Linked DNA regions of Homo sapiens: region 2 is linked to region 1. Evidence: fine-mapped expression QTL. Tissue or cell type: thyroid. Region 1 holds a variant in brackets; the other region holds the start of a gene. All regions are shown on one strand. Distances are from middle to middle.

The links. PIP is the estimated chance that this variant, and not a neighbour inherited with it, causes the effect.
Region 2: it holds the start of LRRC36, and the variant in region 1 is fine-mapped to the expression of LRRC36 in thyroid (GTEx, PIP 0.96).

What each region holds. Positions count from the first base shown.
Region 1 is chr16:66,933,785-66,941,886 of GRCh38, reverse strand. It overlaps CIAO2B (cytosolic iron-sulfur assembly component 2B), which reads left to right and starts at 7,485. Exons shown (of 5, transcript NM_016062.4): 1 at 7,485-7,664; 2 at 7,821-7,900. The coding sequence starts at 7,523. It overlaps CES2 (carboxylesterase 2), which reads right to left and starts at 6,371. Exons shown (of 12, transcript NM_001365405.1): 1 at 6,176-6,371; 2 at 3,646-3,850; 3 at 2,529-2,670; 4 at 1,532-1,665; 5 at 1,192-1,450; 6 at 665-763; 7 at 241-381; 8 at 39-119. The coding sequence starts at 6,251. RefSeq lists enhancers at 1-770, 830-1,329, 6,149-6,761, 7,600-7,799, 7,830-7,879. The variant A/G (reference allele first, on the strand shown) is at 3,244.
Region 2 is chr16:67,323,361-67,331,462 of GRCh38, reverse strand. It overlaps LRRC36 (leucine rich repeat containing 36), which reads right to left and starts at 4,648. Exons shown (of 14, transcript NM_018296.6): 1 at 4,531-4,648. The coding sequence starts at 4,600. KCTD19 (potassium channel tetramerization domain containing 19) reads left to right here and starts at 4,722. Exons shown (of 16, transcript NM_001100915.3): 1 at 4,722-4,758. The coding sequence starts at 4,756. RefSeq lists a silencer at 4,606-4,755 and an enhancer at 6,511-6,590.

The DNA.
Region 1 (8,102 bases):
AGCCCGTCTCCATTGGCGAGGGACCCCAGGAGCCTTACCAGCAGCGTTAACATTTTCTGCAGAGCAGCCTGGGAGGCCTCTCTGTCCATTTCCTTCTGGGTATCATAGATCCTCATGACCTGGATGGCCAGGAGAGAGTCTGTAGCTGGGGATGGGATGAGCCTGGAGCTATGAAGCCCTGAACACCCCCCACTACCAGATGGGCTCCCCAGGCACTTGTGGGCTTGGGTTGGGGCTCACCTTGGGGATGAGCCAGCCGAATTCATTGTTGTTGACACCAACAATGCTAGGGACAGGCTGAAAGTCGGCAGAGGCCAGCAGCTCCTGGGGGTGCCTGGGCAGGAAGACCCCATCCACCACTCCGGGGATCATCTTGAAAGGCTGAGGGGAAATGTAAGGTCAGGGAACAAGGTCAGGTCCCAGACATCTTCCGATGCCCTCTGAGTACCTTCCACTCCTTCCCAGTTTATCCCTGGATGCTCATACCCACCCCAGGAGATTACTGTTTGGCTCAGCATGCACCGACCTTCAGTCCCGACCCAGGGCTATGACACTCAGGCATGCAGATGAGGTAATGTGCCCAGGGAATATGACGGCCGTGCAGGCCTGCCAGCCCCATGCCTATTGCACCCCTTCCTCTACACCCACATCCATTTAGACCAACCTTGTTAATTGCAAGAATCTCCTCTTTACTCTTGCCCCGCAGGCAGCCCACCAGGGCCTCAGAGTCAACTTGGTCACAGGCAGACAGGTTGGCCACCACCTGTAAAGGGACCAGGCAGGGGCTGGCTCATCCTTCCAGGTAGAGGAGAGGAGTTTGCCCAAGGCCCTGGCCAAGAACAGGGGTACCCCAAATCTCAGAGGGTACTTCGTATGAGTTCCTGCAGTTCTGACACTGTTCCAACTCAGAAGTCCCAGACACAGGGGCCATCCCATCCGCCTAGATGATTCTCCTCATGGTGGGGATCCCTAGGGTGACAACTTTGCACAGGAGCCACAGAACAAGCTCGGCCTCTGCAATGGCAGAAGGATGTGAATTCTGACCCTGGAGCCCCCCAGCAATTCCACGGTAGGCAGCAGCTCCTGGAGCATGCTCCCGATGGCCCTTGTCATCCCCGTTTAACAGACAGAGGCTCTGAGGGATATGAGGGGAGGGAGCAGGCCTAGGCCTCTTCAGCTGAGGGCACTCACCGTGGAGATGACATCAGCTGAGCTGGCAATGAGGCCGGGCAGGAGGGCCACGCCACTCTCCATGATGGCTCCGTGGAAGAGTCCTTGGGATATGGGGGACACAACAAGCGAAGACACACTCGTGCCACCCGCAGACTCGCCAAAAATGGTGACACGGTCAGGGTTGCCTCCAAAGTGGGCGATATTCTGCTGGACCCAGCGTAGTGCAGCCACTTGGTCCAGGTAGCCCCAGTTGCCGGTTGCGTGCTTGTCTCCAGTGCTGAGAAGTAGCAGGGACAGGGATCACAGGGCTGTCCTGGCCCCGCTCAGCCCGGGTTGCCCAGCCCAGCCCTAGTCTCACCTGAAGAAGCCCAGGACACCCAGGCGGTACTGGATGATGACCACCACCACGTTCTCCAAGGCAGCCAGCATGGAACCATCATACAAGGAAGCCATGCCAAAAACAAGCGCACCACCGTGGATCCACACCATCACCTGGGGAAATCAAGGCAGCTACCATGATGCTCCCACCCAGCCCAAACCCCACCAGGGCCACTACCTAGACCAACCAGTGCTTTGCCTCTGTCTACCTCCCCATTAGATCTCCAGCACAAATTCATTACATGGGCAAATGGTTAGGCACCCAAGATCTATCAGGAAGACCAGGCCTCCCAATCTTTGCAATCGAACCCCCTGTATCAAAGCCTGGGTTCATTAACCCCAGATAATTCACCAAAGTGGAAAGAAAAGGGGTGTCTCCCTGATGGCTCCACATGAACATTAACCAAAAATGTCCTTAGCCTGAACCACATAGTGAGACCCCGTTTCAACAGAAAATGTTTTAAAAATGAGCCAGGCATGGTGGAATAGGCCAGTAGTCCCAGCTACTCGGGAGGCTAATCTGAGAGGATCATCCCGGATTTCGAGGTTACAGAGAGGTATGTTCATGCCACTGCATTTTAGCCTGGGCAACAGAGCATGATGCCATCTCTAAGAAAAAAAGTTTTTGTGTGTGCCCATTCTATAGGCCCAACAGATTATCCATGGCTGGGGTTCTTGGTCACCTCAAGGTGCAGCCCTTTGGCACTTAAGTGGATCTCCTGGCATGAGTTGGCTGAGTGAGTCCTGGGTCCAGCCCAGAGCCACAGCCTTTGACCTCTGGGAGCAGCCAGAACTCTGTGACCCCATGTCCAGGGGCCAGCTGCCCAGTCTGGGTAAGGAGCATTTCTTGGACCTGACAGTGAGAAGCTTCTCAGCATGGTCCACTCTGAAGCAGGGCCTGAGCTAATATTGTCCTTTTCAGCTTCTTGCAGAAGAACTGTCCTCCAACCCCCAGTGAACTGTGGCCTGACACCCACCGGCAGGTTAGAGCCTTCATGGCTATGGGCCGGCGTGTAGATGCTGAGGTACAGGCAGTCCTCAGACATGGAGTCGGAAGGGAAGGTCATGTTGAACTGGCTAAGAAACTCTGACTCCACTGCGGTGAGGTCCTGTAGACACCTGGTAACCAGGGCAAATAATCAGTCCAGGGGCCAGGCTGTGGCCAAAACCAGACCCTGGGTTCAGAGGTGCTCCCAGCCACCCTCAGACCCTTCCCACAATATCCTGCTCACACATGATCCCTCTCAAAAATCCCTTCCCACCAAGTTACAGGCCACAGGCTCTGGGGAAGCTGGGATGCAGCTTGGACTTCCAGGGAGGCCTCGAGGTTACTGAGGACCTTGGGTATCATTCCTCGCACTGCCGGAAACCTTGACTCTTAGGGGTTTCTATGAGAACCATTGGCTGCATGTGTTGACATTCACCACTATATTCCTGTAACCCGTAAGGCCTGGGACAGGGGAGTAGCCCACATATGTGTGCTACATGAGTGAATGGATGTTAATTTCTCATGAGAAGGGCAGTGGGATGTCTCTCATCCCAAGTCTAAACTCTCAAAAACTCATCATTCCTACATGGCCTCCAGTTGGAAACATATACATATACATATACATGTCTCTTGGCCAATGGCTCCTGGTCCTGTCAGTGGACACAGTGCCTGTGGAGAGTGCAGGTCCCCAGAAAGCTACCACT[A/G]CTGTTCTCTTCAGGTATTTGCAACATCTGCCACTAGAGTTAGGGGCTCCTACAAGGTTCATAGAGCCAACCCGAACCTTTCCCAGAGACACCTGCCACTGGTGGCAGAGAAAGCTTGGCATAACCAGAATCTGGGGAGATACGTGTGTCTGCCCCTCCCTTCGGCACCTGGAGCCAATGTCTTCTGAATGCCAAGCCCTGATCCAGGAGTCTGAGAAGTTATTCTGCCCTCCTGAGCCTCAGCATGCTCATTGGAAAAATGCACGTGGGAATCCACGAAACTCAGAAGGAAAACTGGCTGTGGGGGTTTAGATGAAATGATAACTGCAGCCTAGCTGAGCTCAGAGCACCCCCACCCCTGCCCCAGGGCCTGGAGTTCCCTGGACCCCTTGGAGAGCTTACATGGCCGGATGGGTGGTTCCATCCCTCACACCACTCCAAGATTCAGGGGGCTCAGGGGGTGCAAATCGCAGCGGACCTAGAGGTGGCTTGGCAAATGGAATTCCCAGGAAGGTTTGGACCCCGGCATTGGCGCCCTTCACATGGACAAGACTCCCCAGCACCTGCCCCGTGTGTGTGGTCCGGATGGGACTGGCTGAGTCCTGGCCTGTGGGCAGAGAGACAGACATCACGGTTGGGTTTGACCAATCGACTGCCCTCCCAACTGTTGGTATTGCTGCTTCCTTGCCATCCTCATCTTAGCTCAAGGGACTCTGATCTGTAAACATGGGCTTTACAAACTTCCTGCCTGTAACACTCCCTTCCCGCTCTGGCTTCCTGGGCCTGTCTCCATCCCACCAGGCTGAGGCTCCTTGGGGCCAGGCATCATCATTCAGCCCTAGGACCTTCAAACAAAGGGTCACATGCCCTTGATGGGACTAGAGTGTCCTTCAACTGTGTGCCAGGTCATGTGACAGTAGGATGATGGTGGGAATTGGGCAGGCAAGTTTCTTGTCCTCAGGGATGTCATGTCCAAAGTGGCAAGAAATCATGTAAAGAAAGCATCATCCAAACCATGAGTGATGTTGGTGAAAAGAGGTGCAAGAGAAAAGTATGGCTGTGGCTGGGATATAAAAAGCACAGTGACTGGCCTGGGGACCATAGTGGGACTCTGTCTCTGCAAAAAAATCAGGAAATAAATTGGCGGGGTGTGGTGGTGCATGCCTGTAGTCCCAGCTGTAGAAAAGCCTGGCTCCAGAAAGTGGGTGAGTTTATGACTGTTTAGATGAAAATCAAGGACAAGTGCACACATCTATTCTTGTGTAAACTGCTGGGCACTGTGTGTACTGCGGTGTCAACAAGCAGTTTCCAGTGTGGGCCATGGGGACTTTGATGGCCCCTGAGGAGAAGCCAGGACTGGTTGGGTAAAAAGAGGATGGCACACATCACCTGTACCCTCCTATGGCTTGTCAATTATTTTTTCTGAATGTGGGTCCAACCCAAAATTTTGTATACATATATATTTGTCAGACAAGGTCGCCATCTGTTGCCCAGGCTGGAATGCAGTAATATGATAACAGCTCACTGCAGCCTCCACCTCCTGGGCTTGAGATCCTCCCGCCACAGCCTCCTGAGTAGCTTGGAGTACAGCTGTCTGCCACCATGCTTGACTTTTTTTTTTTTTTTTTTTGGTAGAGACAAGTCTTGTTGCCCAAGCTGGTCTCTAACTCCTAGCCTCAAGTGATCCTCCCATCTCTGCCTCTCAAAGTGCTGGGATAACAGGTGTGAGCCACTGTGCCTGGCCCAAAATATTTTAAAAGGTAGCCATCTGTGAGGCCAGGCAGATCTTCCTGCTGGGCTCCTGGTGAACTCTAGAATGTGGTCAAGGGCAGGCACGGGAGGAAGCCCTGCAGCAGTGCACCATGGGGCGGGGGGAGTATGGACTCCACCTGCGCAAATTAAATTGGGGAAGGGTTGGAAGAGACAGATCATACACTTAGGAGAGTTTCGGGTGAGAGGACCAAAGGCCGAAACACTCCCCCAGCTTCTGATAAGGGCCTGGAGAAGCCTGGCAGGCACACAGAGCCTTCACCTTTGCCCTGGAAGCCAAGTTGTGCCCTTGCCCAGGATGAGGTAAATGGCATGAGGGACACCACGAGCTCTTTGGTTCTTGTTTCTGGAGACAGATTTTTGCTTTTTCACCCAGGCTGGAGTGCAGTAGTGGGATGAAGGCTCACTGCAGCCTCAACCTCCCCTACTAAAGTGATCTCCCACCTCAGCCTCCCAAGTAGCTGGGACTACAGGTCACAGACCACCACAGCCCACTAATTTCTTTCAATTTTTTGTACACTCCGAGTCTCACTATGTTGTCCAGGCTGGCCTCCAACTCCTGGGCACAAGCGATACTCTCCCTTGGCCTTCTAAAGTGGTGGGATTAAAGGAGTGAGCCAATCGCACCCAGCCACTGTGGCCTCTTAGATCTGCTTTAGGATTTGGCGCCTGGGGGCTTCTGTTCCCCAAGGACCACTATCCTTGTCTGAGGCCCCTTTGGAGGGCTCAGGGCATCCCCCCTGGCCAAGGACGCCACACACTGAGAGCCAGATGCTGCCAGAAGCTATTACTGTTATTACCGGCCGGCAGCACCCGCTACAGCCACAATCATAAGAGGGAAATGGACTGAATCCCCACACCCCAATCCCTCACCCACTCCGACCCCAGGCTGCCTACCCGGCCTGGCATGTCCCGGCGCTCCTGGGGCCCCTGTACTCCGCTGGTTCCTTGCCGTGGTGTCCCCCAGCCCGACCCTTTCTGTGCTTCTAGGAGCCCACCTTGGGCGGCGGGGAGGCGTTGCGTGGGGCTCACGAGTTCCACGCTGTCATCTCCACCAGCTCCTACCTCCCAGGCGCCTGCCCTCCCGCACTGTCAGGTTCTGCCTCCGCAGCATTTGGCAGATCTGAGCCCGGTCCCTGTCGCCCCTCCGAGGGAGCCTCACCCTGGCCCCGGACAAGAAGCAGCAGAAGCCCACAGGCCACCGCGCTCAGCCGCGCACGAAGTCTGTGCAGCCGCATGGTCGGCTCGCTGGTCTCGGTTCGCTGCCGGCGGACACGCTGCTGTTCACCCAGAGGCTGCCCCGGGTCTGTCCAGCAGTGGATCAGTGCCTTGCCCAGCCTTGGAGTTTGGACTGGGCAGGGAGTCAGCGGGGTGCGCTGGCTTGGGCCGGGAAAGGTGGGTGTGGTAGGAGAGCGGGACTGAGCAGTCATAGGTGGGTGGGGATCTAGTGGTAGGCAGGCCCGGGCACGGCCACTTTCCTTTGCCCGGGCTCCTTTGGCATCCTCGGAAGGGGCTGTGCCATTCCTGCAGCCCTTCCGCGATCCAGGGAATCCTCTCTTCAAACCTGTCCTTGTCCACAGGCCCGATGAGCGCGCTGGGGGATCGATAGGAGGGGGCAATAAACTAGAATTGGAGACCCCAGGAGGGCTTCTCTGAGGATGTGCACGTTCAGGATCCCCCAGATGGAGAAATGGGAAGGAACTTGATCGGGGTGAAGGAACCGCTTGAGCAAAGGCAGGAAGGAGTGTCGGCGCCCTTCATTCTGGAAGTTCCTCCTTGCTTTCAGGACTCAGTTTCCTGGGTTCCCCTTCACGGCCCCTCATCTCCTTACAGTCCAGGGTCTGAGGGTCTCCGCGGTCCCCTCCCTACTCAGTCACGCCATTCTTTTGAAACGTACACGTGACCGCGGCACTTCTTAAGGAGCGCCCCCCTTTTCCTCGGTGGCTTTCAGTTTCCTCACCTCCCGCGGAGACCACGGCCATGGTCATTTATCCACTTGACAAACATTTCACGAGCCCCTGCCGGTCCAAGCTGTGGGGACGCCGTACTCCCGGGCCTATGGTGCAGCAGGGGAGGCAGGCGCGTCACCGGGAGGTCCCGAGACACTAGGATCCCTGCCAGGCCAGAGGCGACCAACCGTCCTGGATACGGGAGCTCCCGGCCAGCCTGACTTCCAGGAGGAAGCGGTGTGGGGATTACCTCCGACCGCCTTTAGTGCCCCCTGAGACCTGGTTCTGGCCTCTACGTTTCAGCCCGCTACTGGCTCGCACGACCCAGCGCCGCCGTGGTCCCTTCTCAGCGCCTTCTGCTCCAGCGACCATCATGTTCCCGGGTCCGAGCAGCCAGGGCCGCGGTCACCGCTTCTCTCGCACCTCAGGCCGAGAACCCACAACGCGGCGTGTCCCTCGCGCGACTCCGTCGCCACGCCACGCCCCCTTCCCGTTCTCCGGAAGTGCGCGGGTTGGAGCGGAAGCGCACGCCTGCTAGGATCAGCGGTGGTGGTTCCGCGATGGTAGGCGGCGGCGGGGTCGGCGGCGGCCTCCTGGAGAATGCCAACCCCCTCATCTACCAGCGCTCTGGGGAGCGGCCTGTGACGGCAGGCGAGGAGGACGAGCAGGTTCCCGACAGCATCGACGCACGCGAGATCTTCGATATCCGCCGCTGCTGGGCGCGGGCGGGTTCCGGGGGCTTGCGGTGGGGGGAGCAGTGATATCGAGCAGCTGGTGGAGCCGCATCCCAGCAGGGCGTTCCTGGCAGAGGGTTCTAAGTGGGCAAGGGCGCAGAGTCCCTTTTCCTTCACTTCCCACATCTGATTCGCTCCATCAATGACCCGGAGCATCCACTGACGCTAGAGGAGTTGAACGTAGTAGAGCAGGTGCGGGTTCAGGTGAGTCACTTCCGAGGGGAGCGAGTTGTTCCAGAGAGTCAGAAAGGTTTCTGTGCAGCAGGAGCTGGCGTGCTCTATGCTCACGAACACCGAAGGGTATCTTTGGGGAGGGAGATTGTTGTGCCTATTTTATGGGTGTTGAAACTGAGGCCCATAGAAGTTGGATGATTTGCCCAAAACAACAAACTAAGAAGAGGGACCT
Region 2 (8,102 bases), 390 kb before region 1:
GCCTAAAACTCCTGGGGTCAGAGGATCCTTCCACTTCAGCCTCCTGAGTAGCTGGGACTACAGGTACACACCACCAACACCCAGTTAATTTTTAAATTTTTTGTAGAGACAGGATCTTGCTGTGTTGCCCAGGCTGGTCTCAAATACCTGGCCTCATCCTCCTCCCTGGCCTTCCAAAGTGTGTAAGCCGCCATGCCCAGCTTTCATGTTGAAACGTAATTGCCAATGTAACAGCACTGCGAGGTGGGGCCTCTAAGAGGTGATTAGGTCAACGGTGGCTTCATGCTGTTATCATGGAGTTAGTTATCACGGGAGTTAGCTATCCTAATAAAGGAATTAGTTCAGTCTTCTCTCTCTCTCTCTCTCTCTCTCTCTCTCTCTCTCTCTCTCTCTTTCTCTCTCACATCTCACACATGCACCTTCTGCCCTTCCACCATGGAATGACCCTCACCAGATGTTGGCACCATGCTCTTGGACTTCTCAGCCTCCAGAACCATGAGCCAAATCAACTTCTGTTCTTTATAAATTACCTAGTCTATGGTATTCTGTTATGACAAGAGAAAAGGGACTAAGACATTTATTTATTTATTTATTTATTTAGACTGAGTCTCAGTCTTTCGTCCAGGCTGAAGTGCAGTGGTGCGATCTCAGTTCACTGCAACCTCTGCTTCCCAGGCTCAAGTGATTCTCCTGCCTCAGCCTCCTGAGTAGCTGGGATTATAGGCACCTGCCACCATGCCGGGCTAATTTTTTTTGTATTTTTAGTACAGATGAGGTTTCACCATGTTGGACAGACTGGTCTTGAACTCCTGACCTCAGGTGATCCATCCTCCTTGGCCTCCCAAAATGCTGGGATTACAGGCGTGAACGACCATGCCCAGCCCTAAGACATATATTTAAATCGATGAGTTTATAATGATACTGAGAAAGCAAAACAGTCCTCACTGGTCACCTTTGGAGAATGCTAAGAAAATAACTCATCATTCTGAAAGCTGGCATATAAGGTGAAAACAAATCAAGCTTTTATGCTGCCTTTCCTATACAAACTGTACCTCAGGATAAGCAAACAGTTGATGTGAGGAAATTTCTCTTTATAGAAGTATTACAGTTAATGAAGAAAAATGAAAGAAATAGACAATTACCATTTTGCAATCCCTAATGAATTAACTTAGGTAATCATATTCAGTGGCTGATATCACGAAAAGAAAGAACACTAGGCACCATATACTTCCTAACATAAACATACACCATTACCTATGAAATCGTCTTGTGAAAAAAAAAAAATCCAACCTGAATCTGATTAAGCCTCATCTAACTACCAATTCATAGGAAGTACAGGGAACACGGGAAAATGTTTAACATCTTAGGAATGCAATGAGCAAAGTTCAGGTTATAGTAAACTCTTTCAAAGCCAGTTTCTTCAAAAACAATTGAAAATGCGAGGGAAAAAAAATGGGGAGCCTACAGATCAAATAAGACTTAAGACATACATCAACCAATTGCAATATATGGACCATATACGGATTCTTATTTTATTTTATTTTTTAGATGGAGACTTGCTCTGCCACCCAAGCTGGAGTGCAGTGACGCGATCTCAGCTCACTACAACCTCCGTCTCCCGGGTTCAAGCGATTCTCCTGCCTCAGCCTCCCAAGTAGTTGGGATTACAGGTGTGAGCCACCATGTCCAGCTAATTTTTGTATTTTTAATAGAGATGGGGTTTCACCATGTTGGCCTGGCTGGTCTTGAACTCCTGGCCTCAAGTGATCCACCCACCTTGGCCTCCCAAAGTGCTGGGATTACAGGCATGAGCCAACGCACCCGGCCATGGATTCTAATTTTAAAAAATTATAGGACAACTGGGGAAATAAGAACACTAGTTAGATATTTCATGATATCAAGAAATCACTGTTCACTTTAGGAGGCTGAGTCACTTGAGGTCAGGAGTTCAAGACTAGCCTGGCTAGCATGGTGAAACCCCGTCTCTACTAAAAATACAAAAAAATTAGCCAGGCATGGTGGCACATGCCTGAAATCCCAGCTACTCAGGAAGCTGAGGCAGGAGAATTGCTTGAACCCTGGAGGCAGAGGTTGCAGTGAGCTGAGATCATGCCACTGCACTCCAGCCTGGGCAACAGAGCCAGACTCCATCTCAAAAACAAAACAAAACCAAAAAAAGAAATTACTGTTAAATTTTTTAGGTTGCATATGTGACTTTTTTTTAAAGTAATCTTAGCTTTTAAAAATACATACTGGCCAGGTGCTGTGGCTTGCACTTATAATCCCAACTCTTAGGGAGGCTGAGGTGGGTGGATCACTTGAGGTCAGGAGTTCAAGACCAGCTTGGCCAACATGGCAAAACCCTGTCACTACTGAAAATACAAAATTAGCCGGGCGTGGTGGCGGGTGCCTGTAGTCCCAGCTACTTGGGAGGCTGAGGCAGAAGAATCGCTTGAAATGCGGAGGTGGAGATTACAGTGAGCCGAGATCACGCCACTGCCCTAGAGCCTGGGTGACAGAGCAAAACTCTATCTGAAAAATAATAAAAACAATAAATAAATAAAATACTACTGAAATATTTATGGAGGAAATCACATACTTGGAATTTGCTTCAAAATAGTCAGTGTAGGGGGTTGGAGGTGGGTGGAGGATAGGTGAGGTATACGTGAAAGAAGCTTGGCCATGAATTGATGATAACTGTTGAGGTAGGCTAATAGAGTTCATTATTCTGTTATCTCTACTCTTGTATATATTTGAAAATTGCCATAATATAAAATTATAAAATAAGTGATAAATGCTTATATATGTAGAGAATATTTCTGGAAAACTATCCAAGATACTGGTAACAGTAATTGCCTTTAGGAAGGGGAACTAGGCCTATGAGACGGGGATGGGGGAGTAAAGACTTTCTTCTCACTGTACAATTTTTATTTTATTTATTTATTTTTTCGAGACGGAGTCTCACTCTGTCACCCAGGCTGGAGTGCAGTGGCGCGATCTCGGCTCACTGCAAGCTCCGCCTCCTGGGTTCACGCCATTCTCCTGCCTCAGCCTCCCGAGTAGCTGGGACTACAGGCGCCCGCCACCATGCTCCGCTAATTTTTTTTGTATTTTTAGTAGAGACGGGGTTTCACTGTGTTAGCCAGGATGGTCTCGATCTCCTGACTCGTGATCCGCCCGCCTCGGCCTCCCAGAGTGCTGGGATTACAGTCGTGAGCCACCGCGCCTGGCCCTCACTGTACAATTATTATATTACCCACAGAATAAATTAATTGAATTATTTTAACAGTCAAAATGAGTAAATATTACATATTTCCCCCCTCTACCAAATTAATCATTAGACTACCGACATGCTCTAGTATATCCTTCCTGTTCTGTTCTTGACTGCACATCATACGCTTCAGCTACCATCTATTTCTGCAGTCTCTTTTACAGCTAAAATTTTCAGCAAAAGTTCTTACTTTCACTGTCTCTTCCCCTCAAATATCATTTCCCTTTTTCATCCCACTCCAATCTGGTTTCCCTCCTCCCCACCCTCCCAAAACTCCCTCTGTCAAGGTCACCAGTAAGTTCCATGTTGCTAAATCTAACAGACACTCTGCATTTAAGTTGCTCAGCCTGTCAATAGCATTTGGCACAGTTGGCCATTGCTTGCTCGATACACTACCCCTTCTCAAATTCCAAGATACCACATTCTTCCTCTATACAACCTCTAAACACTGAAATATTCCAAGGTTGAGTCTTAAGCTTTCTTTCACTTCTCCATCGACATTCTCTCCTTAGCTGAGTTCATCCACTCCCGTAGCTTTAAATACCACCTATTGCTAATGTCTCCAAAATTTTCATCTCTAACCCTGACCTCTCCTCTGAGGTCCAGACCCATATATCCAACTGCCTACTAGGTACCTTACACTTGGATGTCTAATAGACATTTTATTATTTATTTATTTTATTTATTATTATTATTTTTGAGATGGAGTCTCGCTCTGTCGCCCAGGCTGCAGTGCAGTGGTGCGATCTCGGCTAACTGCAACCTCCGCCTCCCGGGTTCAAGCGATTCTCCTGCCTCAGCCTCCCGAGTAGCTGGGATTATAGACTTGAACCACCACGCCGGGCTAATTTTTGTATTTTAGTAGAGACGGGGTTTCACCATGTTGGCCACGCTCAGGTGATCCACCCGCCTCCGCCTCCCAAAGTGCTGGGATTACAGCGGTCAGCCACCGCCCCCCGCAGTTCTGTCACCTGCGGCAGGGTCCCCTGTTAACCTTGTTTCTCCTTCCCTACTTCACACTCCCCTCTTCTCTCTCAATTCCTCGGGCTCTGCCCCACACCCTCCCGTTACTTCAGTTCCTCCACCTCCACCTCCCTCTAACCTTCTGCCTCAAGTTATCCCCCCGCCCCCCAGCCTCAGGTACCGCTTCTCTGTGGTTCCCTCGCCTCTATCTCAGGTTCCCCGCCTTCCACTTCAGTTTTCTTTCCACAGCTTCTGACCCTACGTTCCCAGTCCACACCCTCCCGGCCAGACCCTACCCGGCTGCTCCAGCGTCAGCGCCCCCAGGCGGCGAATGCCTTCCTCGTCCAGCTCCCATTGCTCCGCCATCCCCGCCCGCCGCTCACCTGCCACCGCCCGCGAGACCACCCGGCGCACGCCAGGCCCCGCCCACTGCCCCGCCCCCCGCGCGCGCGCCGCCGCGACCCCGGGAACCGTTATTGGCCGGGTCACAAGCCCGCCCGCCCGCTGCTGGAGCCGCGACCATGGTACGGAGCCCGCTCTGGCGGGGGCGCCAAAAGCACCAAAGCGGCGAATGGGGGCCGCTGTGGCCAAGGATTGGGGCTAAGTGGTTCGAGACCTGGCTCTGGGGCATGGGAGAGAGCGAGGGGCCCCCAGCCGGGAAGGATTTGGGGGGCTGGCTCTGAGGAGTTAGAATAACGCTCTGTCTTGAGGGATGAAGTGTTCTGGCTCTGAGGATGTGGGGGACTCCGGTTCTGAGGGCTGGGCGTGTGCCCCTTTGACGGGGTGGTCTTCATATCTCAGCGCTGGGGGATGCTGACTTTGGGGCAAGGCGAGGGTGTGTGTGAAGGGGAGATCCAAATCTGAAGGATTGGAGCGTGGGGACAGAACTCTAAGGCATGATGGGGAGCTCCAGATCTGAAAGGTTGGGAATCCTGGCTCTGAGGAGTTGGGGTCCTGTCTTTAGAGCATGAGGAAGTTCTAGCTCTAGAAATTGACTTGGACGGGCTGGGCGCGGTGTCTCACGCCTGTAATCCCAGCACTTTGGGAGCCCGAGGTGGGCGGATCACCTGAGGTCAAGAGTTCAAGACCAGCCTGGCCAACATGGTGAAACCCCATCTCTACTAAAAATACAAAAATTAGCCGGGTGTGGTGGCACGGCCTGTAGTCCCAGCTACTCGGGAGGCTGAGGCAGGAGAATCGCTTGAACCCGGGAGGTGGAGGTTGCAGTGAACCGAGATTGCACCACTGCACTCCAGCCTGGGCGACCTGAGTGACAGAGCCAGACCTTGTCTCAAAAAAAAAAAAAAAAAAAAGGTAAGAAATTTACTTGGACGGAGCTTCTTCGGGGGAGAAGGATCAGCGTGGGAAAGAGAGAAGCTCTTTGTAATGGGGTGGGGATGACTGCTTTAGGGCTACCCCGTTTCCTGAAGTCAGTCCGGCAAGAAGCCTTTTGTCTTTCAAGCACCACAGGTTCCCCTAAGCTTGCCTGTGACTGAGGGCTGTCGCCAGGCTGCGATAGCTCTGCACTAACCAGCCCCTGAGTAGTCTTTGGGAAAGAACAGCCGCATCCCTAACCCCTACCCTCACTCCAGCAGGCACTTAAGAGCCCACCTGTGGATGGGACATGTATGTAAGAAGGAGCCAGGACCCTCTTGTCACACCCTATCCTTAACAAGAAAAGAGGGTGGGCTGGGCGTGGTGGCTCACGTCTGTAATCCCAGCACTTTGGGAGGCCGAAGCATGTGGATCACGAGGTCAGGAGATCGAGACCATCCTGGCTAACACAGTGAAACCCCATCTCTACTAAAAATACAAAAATAAAACAAAATAAAATAAAATAAAATAAAATAAAGCCGGGCGTGGTGGCGGGCGCCTGTAGTCCCAGCTACTTGAGGAGGCTGGAGGCTGAGGCAGGAGAATGGCGTAAACCCGGGAGGTGGAGCTTGCAGTGAGCCAAAATCGTGCCACTGCACTCCAGCCTGGGCTAGAGAGCGAGACTCCGTCTCAAAAAAAAAAAAAAAGAAAAAAAGAAAAAAAGAAAAAAAAGAAAGAAAGAAAAGAGGAACTGAGACCAGAACTGGGGCTCACCTTCGAGAAGTAGGTTTTCTTTGGCATCCAACATCTGCACACTCTGAGCACCCCCATTGAGCTCTCAGCCACCTTTAAGGAGAACAGAAAGCAGAATCAAGGGTCCTTCCTTGCATATTTATGCTTTCTGGTCTATGTGAGACCCTTAGTCACTCCATTTGTTACATTCAGCCTTTGCCTGAACATGAACTTGTAGAAAGGCTTTTAGAAGGGCTGGGACTTAGAATTCTAGGTTAGCTCATTAGATTGACTTTTCTGGCTCTGCTTCTGTCAGTTATGCAATCATTTCACAATTTGTCATATTTCTCTTATTACCCCCTTTAACTCTTCTAGTCTCAAATGTGGCATATATAATTGCTCTTCTTTATGTCTGAATATTGCTGTGGGAGAGATGGACCCCATCCCATTCTTTCTTGCATGCATTTATTTTCCTTCCTCAGCTGTCAGAATGGGAAATGCAGGTTCTTTCTGGAGCAGGGAGCTTTTCCTTTCTTAAGTAATCACCTCTTACTTTAACACTGTTTTTCCCCCACGAACGTCTTAATGCAATTTTATAAACACAGAAAGATTGAAAGAATTGTACAGTGAGCACCATATATCCACCACCTGCATTCTACAATCAACATTTTGCTCATATTTGTTTTATCACATGTCCATCTAGCAATCCTATCTGTCCATCAATCTGTCTTTTTTAAATTCATCTCAAAATAAATTGCAGATATCAGTACATTGCAGTCCAATCACTTCAGCCTGCATAATTTTTAATTAGAATTCGATATTGTTTTATGGTTCTTTTTAGGTAAAATTCTATATACTATTTACTACCCTTTAAAAAATATTTTTACAAGGGTAGTGCCCTTTATTTTAAAATTTGATATGGATGGTTTGTATGTTTGATGGCTCTCTACTTTTCCATCGTATTGATAAACTAGGTCATCTTGAAACAAAGAAGACAATTCACTTATAAATAGATGACCTTAAACTTTTTTTTCAACAACCTCTTGTCCAACAGATGTACAGATGACCTTAAACTTTTTTTTCAACAACCTCTTGTCCAACAGATATACAGATGACCTTAAACTTTTAACAATGAGCTGAGGAAGGTTAGTGATCTTTGCTGCCTTTGTATATATGAAAAGGTATCTATAGCATTCATCCTCCAGTAATGTAATGTCTCTGCAGGTAAGATCCCAAGAGAGTTCTGCATGCGCTCCATGGAATGGACAGTACCTCATCTTTTTTTTTTTTTGTAGATCTATTGAGATATAATTCACATACCATACAATTCACACATTTTAATGTGTACAATTCAGTGAGTTTTAGTATGTTCAGAGTTGTGCAACTATCATCACAATCAATTTTAGAACATTTTCACCATCCCCAAAAGAAATCCCATACTCATTAGTAGTCACACCCCATCTCCCCATAGCCTCTCCAGCCCTAGGCAACCACTAATCTATTTTCTATCTCTAGAAATTTGCCTTGTCCACACATTGCATGTGGATGGAATCATATGTGATTTTTTGTTTGGCTTCTTTCCCTTGGCATAATGTTTCGAATTTCATCCATGTTGTTATCATGTATCAGTACTTCATTCCTTTTTATTTTTTATTTTTTTAGAGACGTGCCTCACTCTGACGCCCAGGCTGGAGTGCAATGGCACGATCACAGCTCACTGCAGCCTCAAACTCCTGGGCTCAAGTGAATCTCCTGCCTCAGCCTTCCAAAGTGCTGGGATTACAAGCACAAGCCACCATGTTCATCCCATTCCTTCGTATTG